2 separate regions of the Homo sapiens genome follow, and region 2 is linked to region 1. The links come from fine-mapping of genetic effects on gene expression. A gene starts in region 1. The other region holds a variant in brackets. All regions are shown on one strand. Distances are from middle to middle. Region 1 holds the start of NAP1L1 (nucleosome assembly protein 1 like 1). Region 2 overlaps LOC105369850 (a long non-coding RNA gene).

Evidence for each region. PIP is the estimated chance that this variant, and not a neighbour inherited with it, causes the effect.
Region 2: its variant is fine-mapped to the expression of NAP1L1 in whole blood (TOPMed, PIP 0.93).

Annotation. Positions count from the first base shown.
Region 1 is chr12:76,080,917-76,089,254 of GRCh38, forward strand. NAP1L1 (nucleosome assembly protein 1 like 1) reads right to left here and starts at 3,769. Exons shown (of 15, transcript NM_004537.7): 1 at 3,651-3,769. LOC124902970 (a long non-coding RNA gene) reads left to right here and starts at 4,169. Exons shown (of 2, transcript XR_007063379.1): 1 at 4,169-4,251; 2 at 5,295-5,817. RefSeq lists silencers at 3,084-3,153, 3,204-3,263, 3,334-3,383, 3,524-3,603, 4,044-4,203 and an enhancer at 3,499-4,040.
Region 2 is chr12:76,581,062-76,589,399 of GRCh38, forward strand. The region is part of intron 3 of LOC105369850 (a long non-coding RNA gene); the gene reads left to right. Among named protein-coding and RNA genes, the nearest start is that of OSBPL8, 25 kb to the left of the region's middle. RefSeq lists silencers at 2,944-3,144, 8,094-8,294. The variant T/A (reference allele first, on the strand shown) is at 4,069.

The DNA of each region.
Region 1 (8,338 bases):
AGCTGGAGAGCCAAGCTACCCAGTTAGCACACTCAGCCCCCTCCCCATGTGATACCCTGTACTGCCTTGGGAACCTTCAGAGTCTCCACAAGTAAGGTTCTCACCACATGGGTCCCCTCGATCTTGGATTTCTCAGCCTCTATAACTGCAAGAAATAAATTCTTTTTTTTTAAATAAATTACTCAGTTTCAGGTATTCTAAGCAACAGAAAATGAACTAATATTCATGCTGATTTATAGCAGAACAGTGTAAGTCAACATTCTTTCAAAACCAGGATAAAAATTATCTCATCATAAGTTATCACTGCTCACGTACGTAACCACGGACGGGTTATCTAACCACTCCACACCTATTTTTTTTCCTTGTTAAAATGTTGATGCTACCTGTCTCTAAGTAAATTAAATGAGCTAATAATACACACAGAATTTAAAACAATGCCTGAATAATCAATCAGTGTTGCCTATTACATTATTTATCCCTGTTATGCTCTTCTGTACCCTCTTTAGAAAATAATTCCAAGACTGAAATTATAACTCTAGACAGGTGTGGTGGCTCACACCCATACACTCAGCACTTTGGGAGGCCAAGGCAAAATCGCTTGAGGTGAGGCATTTAAGACCAGCCAGGGCAACACAGCAAGAGCCTGTCTCCACAAGGAAAAAATATATATAACCCTGTTTCCCAATAAAAATTAAAATGTACAAAACTTCTGAATAAGTAAAAATATATACAAATATGCAGGAAGTAAAAGGCAGAGTTGGTAACCAAAGGTATAGAAGCCATTTTCTATGGCAAGCCCACTAATGTACTCTAATGTTCTGTAGTCATTGTGCTAAACGACTTACATATGGATAGGTGTAAAGTAACAACTCTCTCCTTCTAACCCCTATTCTGCCCAAAAACTTATTTAGATGAAACTAGTTTGAAATGGAACTTAAAATCATCAAATTATAACAGGTTCCTTTGTGTAAACGCTGTATTACTCTTTGACCCCTTTACCCTTTCCTTCCTTTATAGCTCTCATCACAATTTAACATTCTACATCTAAGCAACCAATTTGCCTCTTTTGCTCATGACATAAGATACATGTCCATACAGGTGCTAGATAGTTACCCAAAGACTAAACTGAGAACACAATTACAGGTTTGATTAAACTTGAAGATCTGAATACACTGATCATTAATATTTTGATATTGATGAGTCATTCTCTCTAATCCTTTGTTTCAAATTTACAACCAAGAAGTGAATAAAATATTGTATTTTGACATCTTCAGACCTTTGAAGTCCAACAGATACTGCTTCTTTAGCCCCTTCTACAAAAAGACCCTTAGTTTTGAATATATTTTGAGAATTTAGAATCAACTCAGTTTTACCAGGAGCCAACAGGAGCAAGCTGAATAAAATGAGATGGCATTTTGGATTACATTAGTTATGGTACAGGTATTCGTTTCAAAAATCTCATTAAAGGCCAAGTGCAGTAATTTACCATATTCAGTATTAGCTTTATAATTCTGCAAATCAATGGGCCTAATATAAAAATAGGCACTTTGTAGCAGATAAAATTTAGAAAGATATTCAAATTGGTATAGTGAAAACTTTTAAATTTCTATTTACTAACATAATGTTGACTTGGAGAATCTATGAAAGTCAGGTTTTATGACAGAAGATGTCCAAGTCCACCTACCAGGGTTTAGTTCCATACATTCTCCAAAGGACAGTATTCTTAGAACTAAACTATAGATTTAGGCCATTTATTTAAACTTGGGCAACTTCAAACAAGCTTGAAACACAAGAGTGCCTTGAAAATAACTGTAAAAGTCATTTACTTCCCTTCGATTTTTAAATGGTACCCTATACATAAAAGGTTTTTCCCTTATTCAATCAAAGGTAATGTATATTACTTCCAAAGTATAGGAGTATTAATTTAAGCTGACCAAAAAAAGAGGACCCAGATACTCGTTTCCAAAGATGTTTTGAATCCACCTATTTTCAAAAGGCCAAATTTCATTTTACAGCTCTTGTGAAACCAGGCAAGCAGTGTAAATTTTAAAATGCAGCAGTGGGATATCTTCAAATGTAGCAGTGAGATTTTTAAAATGTAGTTGTTTCAAAACTGATCAGTGACCGTCTAAAATACGGGCTCCTTGAGGACATCCTGCGCCTGGTTCATCCTTTTTGCACTCTCAAAGTCTAGCCTTCCCAGATGGGACCTCAGTCCCAGCCCCCCTACACTGCCATCCCCCAGATCTTTAGGGCAGTAGGGTTCATTGACAAGGTTGCAGGCTACAAACTTGGCAAAGTTTATACTAACACCTCATTCCATCCCACCTCCCATCTTAAAAAGGAAACCGTTAAGTATCTTATTCTAGTGACTTCAATAAAGGAACTAATTTATAAGACAGCCAAGAACAATTAAAGTCATAAAGGGCCAAACATTTTATTTTCATCTAAGAACCGTTTGCAGGGGTGGTCCGATCTTTTGGCTTCCCTGGGCCACACTAGAACTGTCTTGGGCCACACGTAAAATACATTAACTAGCTGATGAGCTTTTTTTTCCAAAAAAAAAAAAAAAAAAAAAACCTCATGAATTTGTGTTGGGCCACATTTAAAGCCGTCCTGGGCCGCGGGTTGGACAAGCTTGGTTTAGGGGTTTAGATCGATCAGGATCAATACTCCCCAAATAAAAAACCCTGATCAAGACACCCATCTAACAGTACCTGGGAAACACAATAACAACCTTTTGCTAATAACAGTTAATATAAGCGCTATATACGCGTTAACTTTTTAAAATACTAGCAGTGGAGGCCCTTCCTTATCATCAGCTAACATCCACAATCTCTGGTACCAATAAAAAGATTAAGACCAAAGAGAAGCAGGGAAGAGTTTGAAACCCAGGGACAGGGCTTACTCGCTTACCCTTCCTTTTCACATTCCACCGTCTCTACAACTTTCAAAGTAAGCACAGACCGAGGGCAAGGGTCTCCAACCAGGCCCAGCCAGTGGCCATGAAGCCCATTACCACGTGTGGAGCGAAGCCGCCGGGGGTTTCCCCTCCCCGCGCGGCCGCCCCCAATGGGCGGAGAGCCCGGGAGCGTCGCAGCCTCCCCCGCCCCCTCCCCGCCTCGGGGACTCGTCCCTCCACAGCCCCTCCCTCCCGTCGGAATTCGCAGCCTCCGCCGTTCTTTTCATCTCCCAGCGGCCTCCCTCCTGGTATTATTTTTGAGGGAAAAGCAGGGGGGTGTCCAAGAGGCGGCCGGCTCTGCACTCGGCCCGGCCCGTACGCCGGGGGCCTCCCGGTCCTCGCGGCGCAGCCGAGTCTCAGGGCACCCGGGCGTCACCGCGGCCTCGCTCCGGTCCACGCGGAAAAGACGGTGGAGCTCAGAGAACCTTAGGCCTCCAGGCCGCGCCAACCCCTACGTCGCCTCAGCCGTCCCCGATAAAAGCGCTGGTCGGCCCCGGGGCCCCTCTCAGGCTCCGGGGTCCGGACTCCGCGGTCCTGTCCGACCTCACAGGACGACCCCGGAGGCCACGGGCGGCCAGCGGCCCCGACTCCCGGCTCCCAGTCCCTCCATCCCTCCGGCCCTCCCATCTGCGCAGGCCGCCCAGCCAACACCACGTTCCCCCTTCCCTTCCAGGCCCCCATCCGTTACCGGCGACTAGTATGGGGAGCCAGGCGGCCGGAGCTGCGCAGGCAGTGACTCAGGGCGGCAGCGGCAGCAGCAGCGGGAGGAGCAGGAGGCGGCGCCGCGAGCAGATGGCGCTAAAAAAGACCCAAGAGCCCGCCGCTCGCGCTCATATACAATTAGCGTCAGCACGTAGGGCCCTTTCGCCGCCCTCCTCCCGGCCTTGTAGTCTCCCAGCAACGCGAGCGAGAGGCGGGTCCAGGCCGGGTTGCCTAGCAACTGAACCGTCCTCCTTCCCCGGCGACCTCCATACCCCCACCGAGGACTCCTGCAGCCCCGAGGCCCAGGCGCCGCGCTTGGGCTCCTCTGGTTCCCGCCGGTGTCTAACCTCCTCTGTTAAGCACCCCACCATATCTTTTCTCCCTGCTGAGCCGGAAAGGAAATTTCAACCCCATCAGTTGTGGGGAAGGCCTGGCCCGCGTGCCCGGCGCCCGGCCCGCCCCGCCCCCTTCGGCGTTGTGCTGGGAACGCTCAGGGCTGGCGCCAGTCGCCTGGTCCCTCGCTCGCCGCAGCCTAGACGGCGGACGCTCCCTGTCAAGGCCTAATTCCTGCAACTCGCCGGCCCCCGGTAACCGTTTTCCTTCCCCGCCTAAGAAAAACAGTTTTTTCCTCTAGACCACTTCGGCGGCCTCTTCTGACAGTTTTGCTTCTCCTATGCCAGCGGGTCTCCGCGCCTTTAGGGGGTGCTCGTCATCCTTTGCCCCCCAACCCCCCGCCACATCCTCGTAACTGATGTACAGTCCGTCAGTTCGGCTTCAGTTCTTTTGACGGATGAAAATGGCATATTTGTGCATTCTCTGGATGCGTTATAATGAGGACACTCAGTACGTCCGTTGTTTCATCTTTCTGAAAAAGTAAATCACATTAAATCCTCAGGCTTGTAAAACCTCATAGCTAATTTTCAAGTGATGATGAATTGACTAATACTAACTCAAAAAGTTGTTCTCAGAGTATGGTCTGAGGGTCCCCAGACCCTTTCATGGGGAAGGTCAAAACTATTTCCATATTAATGTCAAGACTGCCTTTTGCATTCTCATTCTCTCACAAGTGTACAGTGGGGTTTTCCGGAGGCTACGTGACATGTGATAAGGAAACAGACTGAAAATAGAAGCAGATAGGAGAATCCAGTCATCTGCGGTTAAACCAGACGTTAAAGAGATTTGCAAAAACTCGATTTGGGGGCAAGGGGGAGTAGTTATTTTTCATATAAAAATTATTTTTTGTTAATATTTGATTGCTTTATTGTTTTTAAATGAAATACTCTTAAAATTTCTCACTTTTAATTTCTGATATAAATATCAGTATCAGTAATGCACATAAAAGTTCTTTGGGGTCCTCAACTTTTAAAGGAGTGTAAAGGAATCCTAAGACCACAAAGTTTGAGAACCTCTTCTCTAAATCTTGCATTTATTGAAACTTCAAACTGCCTAGAATCCCCTATTGTAATCCACACATTTAGCAACTTTATCTTCCGTTTTAGGGGATACAATGTTTTCCTTGGCCCTCCAGAACCTCATTGAAATTATTTGCCTTCCCACTCTATACTGCAGACGACTCTGTTTATTCATTCATTTTAGTTTTTCATATACAATTCCTTTGTTGTTCTCATAGCCTATTCCTGTACACCCTTCTCAACAATGATGTAATGATACAAGGAGCATAATAGCATCAATAATGGATCTTCAGGAAGAACCCACTATACATAAACAAGGTAGACCAGTGCTCAGTTTGAACATAAATTTGACACATTAATTTCAATAAGAACTTCAGGAATGTTGCATTTTAATCAAAGCTGTGCACGATGCAAGGTAATTAGCATATTAAAATGAACTAAATAACTTTCACTTTCTTTCCATAAATCTTTATGGTAGCAGAATTTCTGAGACAAAATTGAGAAGTTAGCTTTTGTGGTGGTTTTTATCCCACACCAGAGAGCCTCATCAATTTTCGGCACTTCGCTCATGAAGGCTCTGGATTTTTTAGGTTTCACCACCCCCCCACCAACCCCTATAACTTAGGTGTTATCATTACCAGTACATATGCTCTTTCCCCCTTTTCTCCAGCTTCCTCTTCTTTTTTCAGTGTATCCTAGCCAATCTAAGAAACTAAACAATAAAATATTTCTAATAATGCATGCCTTTGTAATATAGTCTTTTGAACCAGTTTGTAAATCTAAGTCTTTGCCATTAAAGTTCAGGGAAGGGCAGACATTTATGCATTCATTCAACAAATATTTATGTCAGGCACAACTTCGGACTCTGGAAATACAGCATTTAGTAAGAAAGACACGGTTCTTGATTTTATTGAAGTTATGGTCTAGTGAGGTGAGGCAAATGATTAGAGATAAAATAATTTTACTAATAAAATATTAGTAATAAAACAATTTCACTTATCAATAATAAATAATTGATAAGTGAATGCTATAAAGAAAATAAAATGAGAAAAGGGGTAGGAGGTGACTGACCTGAAGATACCTTTGAGCTTTTTTTTTTTTTTTTTTTCGACGGAGTCTCACTCTGTTGCCCAGGCTGGAGTGCAGTGGCGCGATCTCGGCTCACTGCAACTTCTGCCTCCCGGTTTCAAGCAATTGTCCTGCCTCAGCCTCCCGATTAGCTGTGACTACAGGCAGGCGCAACCACGCCCAGCTAGTTTTTTTGTGTTTTTAGTAGAGATGGGGTTTCACCATGCTGGTCAGTCTGGTCTCGAGCTCCTGACCTCAAATGATCCGCCTGCCTCAGCCTCCCAAAGTGCCGGGGTTACAGGTGTGAGCCTCTGCATCCGGCCACCTTTGAGCTTTTTACATTGGCCCCTCTTATACCCCCAAATCACACAATGTAGTTAACTCATCTAACTTAATTGCAATAAATGGTGACCCTGGTCACTGATCTTGGGCCATGCGAAATTTTCTGTTGCAGTTCCTTTTCTCATGCTCTCTTTGGAAGCATATATACTAAAATTAAAGGTCCTTTTTTCTCTATCTCCCATGATTTTCATTTGGTAGACTTTTATAGCATTGTAGCCTGGAGGCTTAGAGGGGTGGCTTTGGAGTCAAACAGCCTATTTTGTCCCCATTTTTCTACCACTTAATAGCTGTGTAACTTTGGATAAGTCAGTTAGCCATCCCAGGTTTCATTTTCCACATCTGTAAAATGGGGAAAATAAGCATGCATTTTTCATAGGGCTGTTGTGAAACTTAAAAAAATTTTTTTTTTTTTAAGTCAAGAGGGATCTTGGTATATTACCCAGGCTGGTCTTGAACTCCTGGACTCAAGAGATCCTCCCACTTCAGCCTCCCAAAGTGTTGGGATTACAGGCATGAGCCACCTTGCCCAGCTGTGAAACTTTTGGAGACAGAGTCTCACTCTGTCACCCAGGCTGAGGTGCAGTGGCGCAATCTCGGCTTACTGCAACCTCTGCCTCCCATGTTCAAACAATTCTTGTGCCTCAGCCTCCCAAGTAGCTGAGACTGCAGGTGCGCGCCACCACATCCCACTAATTTTTTTGTATTTTAGTAGAGATGGGGTTGCACAATGCCCAGGCTGGTCTCAAACTCTTGAGCTCAGACAATCCACCCGCCTCGGCCTCCCAAAGTGCTAGGATTACAGGTGTAAGCCACTGTGCCTGGCTCAGCTGTGAAACTTTAAATAACACATTTAAGTTGCTTAACATAATGCCTGACATATATAGTGACCGCTCAATAAAAGGTAACCATTTTTAACCTCTTACTGAAGTTTTGTTTTTATTTTTGTTTTATTTAAAGGTTTAAGGAACTACCCCGAAGTCTTCTGATAGTGTCTGACACTTTTTGTGACATATTTTATTAAAAGCTATCTAGTCACAGCTTTTAAAAGACATTTTCCTGAGCTGAAATAATCCACACCAATTACCACAAAAATATTATAGTCAACATTTCTCAATATTGGATAAGAACTATGAAGATCAACAAGAAATTTGATGACAAAGATGGTATTTTACCTGTGCTTGTGTCTGTGTTTCAGCCCCTATGTAGTAGAAAAAAAAGCATAGGCTTTAACATCAGACAGGTATAGGCTCCTTCAACACTGTGACCTTGCAAAAGTACTTATCCACTCTGATCTTCAAGCTTCCCTATCTGAAAAATGCATTAATAATTATAATAAAATCTGTGTCTTTATTAGCATGAAATAGAGAAATGTATGTAAGTTCCCAGAGCAATGACTTGCCCTTTAAGTACTCAGTATTTATTTTCTTCCCTCTGAATTAATCTGTAGGTAAAACATCCAAGGGAACTAATAATAATTATCATCTAAAAACTGCACAAGATACATTTAAATAACAGTTACGTTAGTTTCAGATCTGGATTTTTTTTCTACTTTTCCCCAAATTAATTTATAGCTGCAATGTAATCAAATTCCAAGTGGAAAATTATGGATAAGATGCCTTACATTTTTCTCTCTACATTCAAAAAAAAGGATTAATAGTTTTTTTGTTTAAAAAAAAAATCTTTTTTTTTTTTGAGACGTAGTTTTGCTCTTGCTGACCAGGCTGGAGTGCAATGGTGCGATCTCGGCTCACTGCAACCTCTACCTCTGGGGTTCAAGCGATTCTCCTGCCTCAGCCTCCCAAGTAGTAGCTGGGATTACAGGCATGCACCACCACGCCTGGCTAATTTTGTA
Region 2 (8,338 bases), 500 kb after region 1:
CCTGACCAACATGGAGAAACCCCGTCTCTACTAAAAAATACAAAATTAGCTGGGTGTGGTGGCGCATGCCTGTAGTCCCAGCTGCTCGGGAGGCTGAGGCAGGAGAATCACTTGTACCCGGGAGGCAGAGGTAGCGGTGAGCCGAGATCGCGCCATTGCACTCCAGCCTGGGCGACAAGAACGAAACTCTGTCTCAAAAAAAAAAAAAAAAAAAGAAAAAGAAAAAAAAATAAGGCTATGCCAGGAAGATCAATTGAGCCCAAGAATTCAAGACCAGCCTGGGCAACATAGAAAGACCCAGTCTCTTAAAAAAATAAAAATAAAAATAGATTAGAAACATCAGACTCAAAATAGTAAAACTCCTAGAAGAAAACGTTAAAAGCTTCATGACTTTGGTCTTGGCAGTGATATTATGGATATGACACCAAATGCACAGGCAACAAAAGCAAAATAAACAATAGTCTGGATGTTCCTCAAAAAACTTAAAGTAGAACTACCATTTATCCAGCAATCTCCCTTCTAGGTCTTTGTCCAAAAGAATTGGAACCAAGATCTTAAAGAGATATTAGTACTCCTATTTTCATTGCAGCACTATTCATAATAACCAAAATGTGGAAATAAACTCAATGTTCATTGACAGATGAATGGATGAAGTGGGCAAATACATACAATAGAATACTATTCAGCCTTTAAAAAGAAGAATTTCTGCAATATGAGACAACATGGATGAACCTTGAGGACATCATGCTAAGTGAAATAAGCTAGTCACAGGAAGATAAATACTGCATGGTTCCACTTTTATGAGATATCTAAAATAATCAAATTCATAGAATCAATGAGTGAAATGGTAGTTTCCAAGGGCTGGGGGAAGGAGGAAATCGGAAGTTACTAATTAATGGGCATAAAGTTTCAGTGAAGCAAGGTAAATAAGCTCTAGAGATCTGCTGTGCAACATTGTACAATTTCAATAATGTATTATTTTCTTAAAAATTTGTTAAGAGAGTCCAGGTGTAGTGGCTCACGCCTGTAATCCCAGCACTTTGGGAGGCTGAGGCGGGCAGATCACGAGGTTAGGAGATCGAGACCATCCTGGCTAACACAGTGAAACCCCGTCTCTACTAAAAAATACAAAAAAAATGCCAGGTGCCTGTAGTCCCAGCTACTTGGGAGGCTGAGGCAGGAGAATCTCTTGAACCTGGGAGGCAGAGGTTGCAGTGAGCTGAGATTGTGCCACTGCACTCCAGCCTGGGTGACAGAGCGAGACTCCGTCTAAAAAAAAAAAAAAAAAATTTGTTAAAAGAGTAAATCTGCCAGGCGCGGTGGCTCATGCCTGTAATCCCAGCACTTTGGGAGGCCGAGGCTAGTGGATCACGAGGTCAGGAGTTCAAGACCATGCTGACCAACATGGTGAAACCCCGTCTCTACTAAAAACACAATAATTAGCTGGGCGTGGTGGCAGGCGCTTGTAGTCCCAGCTATGTGGGAGGCTGAGGCAGGAAAATTGCTTGAACCTGGGAGGCAGAGGTTGCAGTGATCCGAGATCGTGCCACTGCACTCCAGCCTGGGTGACAGAGTGAGACTCTGTCTCAAAAAAAGGAGAGTAGATCTCATGTTAAGTGTTCTTGCCACAAAACATGTTTTAAATATAAAAGGGAGGATAGTGCCTAAATCAAGAAACTTGAATTGACACAACTTATTCCAAAATCCCTGGGAGATTTCTACTTCTTTAAAAAGAAATGTGCTATCTGTAAGGTCACTCTTAGCTGCAAGAGAGACAGGATATTTTTAAGTTTACGTTGTCATCCAAACTTGAATTGGATTTCTGTTACTAAGGAAGAAGCAGAAAATGGATATTAAGCAGGTAATTTGTCATAGTCCATTCATTGGACTGTGAATGGCTTAACACACCATATTGTAAATATATTTTTTGAAATCTGTTTCTTTCCCTAGACTGTAAGATCAGGACTGATTTTTTTAAATGTCTGTATCCCCTCATTTGGCAAAGTATTTTGCACATAGTATATGCTAAGTATTTATACATGATTTGCTATTGAATGTTTCCTGTGGATTAGTTTATTATGAGTAAAAATTAGGAAAACTTTATTACCAGCAAAAAGTAGGGAGGAAGTTAGGAAAAATTATCACTAAAAATGTTAGCATATGTGACTTCTTCTTGATACTTTTAATTTTTGTACTAATTAATTGATTTTTAGTATATCATAAAAACCCTATTTCTTATATAATTATAAGGTAACTTCAGAACATAAAAACTTACAAGAATATCACAAGTATCTTAGTCCATTCATGCTGCTATAACAAAATACCATAGTGTGAGTGGCTTATAAAAAACAGAGATTTATTTTTCAAAGCTCTAGAGGCTAAGAAGTTTAAGATACGATACTGGCAGATGCAGTGTCTGGTAAGGGTCTACTTCCTCATAGACAGCTGTCTTCTCATTCTAACCTCACACGGTGGAAGGGCTGAGGGTTCTCTCTCAGGCCCATTTTATAATGGCAGTAATCTTATTAATGAGGGAAATAACCCTATAATCTAATAATATCCCAAATGCCCCGCCTCCCAATACCATCATTTTGGAGGTGAGGAGTTCAACATTTGAATTTTGGGGGAACATAAACATTCAGACCACAAGAACAATAATTTATTTGTTTATATTAAAAGGAACCATCTTCTCTGCCTCACAGTTTTCCTACCTGGCTCTTAAAATAGAAATATGTTTCTTTCAGAACTATAGAGTCAAGAGGAAATTTCATCTTTCTTTCTGCCACTTTCCCCAAGTGGAAGGAGTTTTGTATTTAATTGGTGATTTGGGGAGAAAAACATAAAACCCAAGCCATTTCTTGCCATCTTTTTCAAATCTTCCCACCCACAAGAAATTATATTCTGCTCAGTTCCTCAATATATGTCATAAACTAAAAACACACGGATTAGGGCCTATGCTTGTCTTCTAGAACAGGCCTGAGGCCTAACTCTCATTCTTTCTACTGTTGATCTCACCAAGCAGAAACAGTGATTCTACACAAGTCTATCCATCGTGCAGACTCAAATTCTCCTGTGGCGAGTCATCACCCATTTGGACTTAGGAAGTATTTGACCAGCTTGGCCAACATGGTGAAACCCCGTCTCTACCAAAAATACAAAAATTAGCTGGGCATGGTGGCAGGTGCCTGTAATCCCAGCTACTCGGGAGGCTGAGGCAGGAGAATTGCTTGAACCCAGGAGGCAGAGGTTGCAGTGAGCTGAGATCACGCCACTGCACTCCAGCCTGGGTGACAGAGTGAGACTCCGTCTAAAAAAAAAAAAAAGAAATATTGAAAAACCTGGTCATGGTTGTATATTATAATACATCCAATCAGCTTTATCTTAGGAAGCTTTTTTGAAATGAAGTCTCACTCTGTCACCCAGGCTGGAGTGCAATGGCATAATATCACTGCTCACTGCAGCCTCTACCTCCTTGGCTCAAGCGATCCTCCTACCTCAGTCTCCCAAGTAGCTGGGACTACAGACATATGCCACATGCCTGGCTAATTTTTCAAACATTTTGTAGAGATGGAGTCTCCCTATGCTAGGCTGATCTTGAACTCCTGGACTCAAGCAACTCTCCCACCTCGGCCTTCTGAAGTGCTGGGCTTATAGTCATGAGCCACCATGCCAAGCCGAGAAGTTGGTATTTTATCTTTTTGGCTTCCTATCAATTGGGTCTGAATTCAGGGAAGAGTTAAGATGTGTGAGCAGCTATCACTGCCTAAGCCCCATTAATGACAGGATAGTAATACATTTTTTAATAGGTAACTCTAACCAAAAGTAGTTGTTTTATGAGAACCTAGGTCTAGCAAAAGAAATAAACTTAAATCTTGCCAGTCTAACAATAAGGGAATAAAATATCCCAGCAGCCAAGTGTGGCAGCTTATGTCTGTAATCCCAGTATCTTGGGAGTCCGACACAGGAGGATTGCTTGAGCCCAGGAGGTCAAGGCTAAAGTGAGCCTTGGTTGTAGCACCATGTTAAAGCCTGGGTGACAGAGTGAGACCCTGTCTCAAAAAAAAAAAA[T/A]TTTTTTTGTTTATTTATGAATGCCTACTGTGTGCAAGGCAGTGTTCAGAGGAGAAGTTTAAAGAGTTAGAATACTAATACTTTAAACAAAAGTTACCTGGTACTCTAATTTTATTGTTTGAGTTTTGAATTGCTATAATGATCAAGGCAAAGAAATATCATAATTATAACATTTGAGTGCTTATGGCTTGTCAAATGAGCAGTTTCCTGCGAAACAATATCTGATTGAATCCTCAAAACAACTCTGTGAGACAATACATGAGAATAGTCTAGGTTGTGCTGCAGTTGGGAGAAAAAGCAAATGTTTAACAAAAAGTTAGCTCTGGCTGCAGGCAACTCTCCAGGCAACTGTCTTCCATGCAACAACGTGATAATCCAGGCAGCTTCAACCTTGTGGTGCTGCCATCTTAAGATGAATCTTTTTCCATGGTTGCCACAGTCGGGAAAGAAAAAAATTTCATATCGACCTTTTACTGCCACATCCTGAAGGTGACACACGTAAAATCTACAGTTTTCACTGGCCAGACCAAGTCACATGGCTCCATTCAGTTGTAGGGTCGCTGAGGAATACAGTCAATCCACTGAGTGGCCAGAAAGGAAAGAGAAGTAAATATTGATTAACAAAGCAATATGTAGCATAAATAGCTATTATGACTGTTGTTTTTATATAGGTGAAGAAATGTAGGCTTAGAAAAATTAAGTTATTCATCCAAAGGTACATATAAGGTAAGTAGGGGAGCCTCAGCATATGGACCTATCTGACTCCAGAGCCTGTGCCTAACTTCTATCTTCCATTACCTCCCAGCACCGCACTGGAAGCCTGGCAGAACCTAGCCACCACTAGGGATATTTAATTCAATTCATATACATTCAGTTCAATTCAAATCAGCATATATTTGCTAAATGCTTTCTCTTTGCCAGGCATTGCAGCTGCATCTGGAGGAGGGTTGAGCTATTTCACCATATAGATCTCCTACGACTTTGAGACTGTGATGTAAAGAAATAGGCAACTGTGATGGTTATTTTATTTGACAACTTGGCTGGGCTGTGGTACCCAGATATTTGGTTAAACGTTATTCTGGATGTTTTGGTGAAGGTGTTTTTGGATGAGATTAACATTTTAACCAGTGGATTTTAAGTAAAGCAGATTACTTTCCATAATATGGACGGGCCTCATCAATCGGTTGAAGGCCTTCATAAATCAAAGACTGACCTCCCCAGAGAAGGAAGGAATTCTGCCAGCAGGTTGCCTTTGGACTCAAGCAGAAACTGAGTCCCCACAATCATGTGTGCCAATTCCTTAAAATAAACATCTATATCTATAATATCTATATGTATACACATTCTGTTGGTTTGGTTTCTCTGGACAACCCTAACTAATATAACAAGCTTAAAAATTAGTTCTATAAAACAGGGCTAAGAAATGATTCTTTATTATACTTTAAGAACAAGATCCTCTGCAATCCCTATTTACTTTTATCTTTGAATGTTAAGTAAAAATAGCAGAATTCTAAAATAACCTACAGAAATAAGTCAAGATTCATTATATTTTCTATAATACAAGAAGTTTTACAAAGCTATTCATCATAAAATACATAAATTTTTGCAAGGAACCTTGTGGACTGAAAAAACAGCCAAAACAAATCTGCCACATACAGGCCCCAGAATGTGGTTTTATAATCTGTCCACTTAGGAAACTGTTCCAATTATCTTCACAAATTCAGTATTGTGAGAATGTGTCTAGGTGTTAATTATCATTTTAGAAGGAAGTCAGCTCTCCTACACAGCTAAGAATGCTAACAGTCTCCAATTTTAACTTGTTCTCTTATACAAGATGCTGTTTTGGGAAGTATTTAGTTGCCCCCTGCTGGCCATACAATTGCAGGATTCATTTTTTAAAAAGTTCTCAGTAGATTGCAGATGATAATGATAAACTTCTGAAGAGATGCATTCAACTTTTTCATCAGATGAATTCACAATAGACTTCCAATGCTCAATTGAGATACGTAAGTTAATAAAAAAAATTTTTTTCCCCACCACCTGGTATAGGGTGAAATGTTCCAGCAGGAAGACTTTAAGCTAGATCAGTGGGAGAACAGGATGAGATGTAGGAGGAGTGACTGAGGGGCTTCACAGGCTCCCTTTCTTCTTTAACTTTTGTTTTAGGTTGAGGAGTACATGTGCACGTTTGTTATATAGGTAAACTCATGTCATGGGGGTTTGTTTTACAGATTATTTCGTTACCCTGGTACTAAGCCTAGTACCCAGAAGTTATTTTTTCTGCTCCTCTCTCTTCTCTCACCCTCCACCCTCAAGTAGGCCCCAGTGTCTGTTTTTCCCCTGTTTGTGTCCATGAGTTCTCATCATTTAGCTCTCACTTATAAGTGAGAACATGCAGTATTTGGTTTTCTGTTCCTGTGTTAGTTTGGTAAGGCTAATGGCCTCCAGCTCAATCCATGTTCCCACAAAAGACATGATCTCATTCTTTTTTATGGCTGCATAGTATTCCATGGTGTCTATGTACCACATTTTCTTTATTCAGTCTACCATTGATGGGCATTTAGACTGATTCCATGTCTTTGCTATTGTGAATAGTGCTGCCCAAAATTCCTAAACACAATTTTCTTTCTATAATACTCATGTCATATTTTATGTCTCTTCATATCCTTTTTAAAACCATATGGAAATAATTTACCAAATTGAGAGGAAAAAAACACTTGTTCAAGAAGCTTAAAAACTATATTTTTATCCTGTCTCTGCTACTAACTCTCAGGCTAATCTTGAGCAAGACTCTTTAACTTTTGGCAGTGATAAATATGTTTACAAATTTTGATTTTCATTCCCGAAAGTTTCTTCATGCTATTTTGTAATTTCTTCTTCCTGCCACTCTTGGGACTTTCCCATCCTCAAGTTACCACTGATCCACTCTCTGTCACTGCAGATTAATTTGCATTTTCTTGATAAGAAAATTATTTTATTTTATTTATTTATTTTTGTTTTGAAACAGAGTTTCGCTCTTTTTGTCCAGGCTGGAGTGCAATGGCGTGATCTCAGCTCACTGCAACCTCTGCCTCCCAGATTCAAGTGACTCTCCTGCCTCAGCCTCCCAAGTAGCTGGGATTACAGGCACGTGCCAACATGCCTGGCTAATTTTGTATTTTTAGTAGAGATGGGGTTTCATCATGTTGGCCAGGCTGGTCTCAAACTCCTGACCTCAGGTGATCTGCTAGCCTCGGCCTCCCAAAGTGCTGCGATTACAGGCATGAGCCACCATGCCTGGCCGAAGAAAATAATTTTTAAGCTTACTAGCTAAGACACTTTATAAAATGAGATATGGAAAAAATGTAAATGCTTTATAAATATTTTTAAAAATTGAGTTTCCCTATCTTGAAACCTGAGGTGCAGTGTGATGCAGTGGTTAAAAGCTTAACCTTGGGGCCAGGCACGGTGGCTCACACCTGTAATCCCAGCACTTTGGGAGACTGAGGCAGATGGATCACCTGAGTTCAGGAGTTCGAGACCAGCCTGGCCAACATGGTGAGACCCCATCTCTACTAAAAATTTAAAAATTAGCCAGGCATGGGGGTGCATGCCTGCAATCTCAACTACTTGGGAGGCTGAGGCAGAATAATTGCTTGAACCTGGGAGACAGAGGTTGCAGTAAGCTTAGATAGCACCACTGGAAAAAAAAAAAAAAAGCAAAAAGCTTAAACTTTTAAGCCAGCAAATGCGGGCCTAGGTCTTGGGTCTTGGCTCTGTTATTTACTAGCTGTATGATGTTGGGCAAGTTACTCAACACCCTGAGGTTAACAGTTTCCCCATGCTTAGAGAAACAGATAATAATAGCATCTATCCTCATAAAGATGTTGTGCAATTGCATACAAAACACTTAGCTCAGTGCTGGGCCTGTACATAAAAAACCTCAGGGTTGACTACCAATGGTAGTCATCTATCTTTAGACATTTCAAAGAGCATCACCTTAATTCTAAGAAAAGGAAATGAGAAATGAGAACCCTGGCCATGCAGCCAGTGCAATCCTAAGGCAATCATTTTAGAAATGTTTTGTGAGGATTATCATAGTTCACTGTGTCAGACATGGTATCCAGCTGACTCTGACTCAAGCCCTTTTCTTAAGCACCCCATTGGTTTTCTTTCCTCATAACTCTTTCTCCAAGTGTCATGGTATCCCTTTCTTTGTAATTCCATTCCTCCCCCTCAAACATATGACCTGACAGTCATCTCATTTCACCTTTGTGATTTGACATATAAC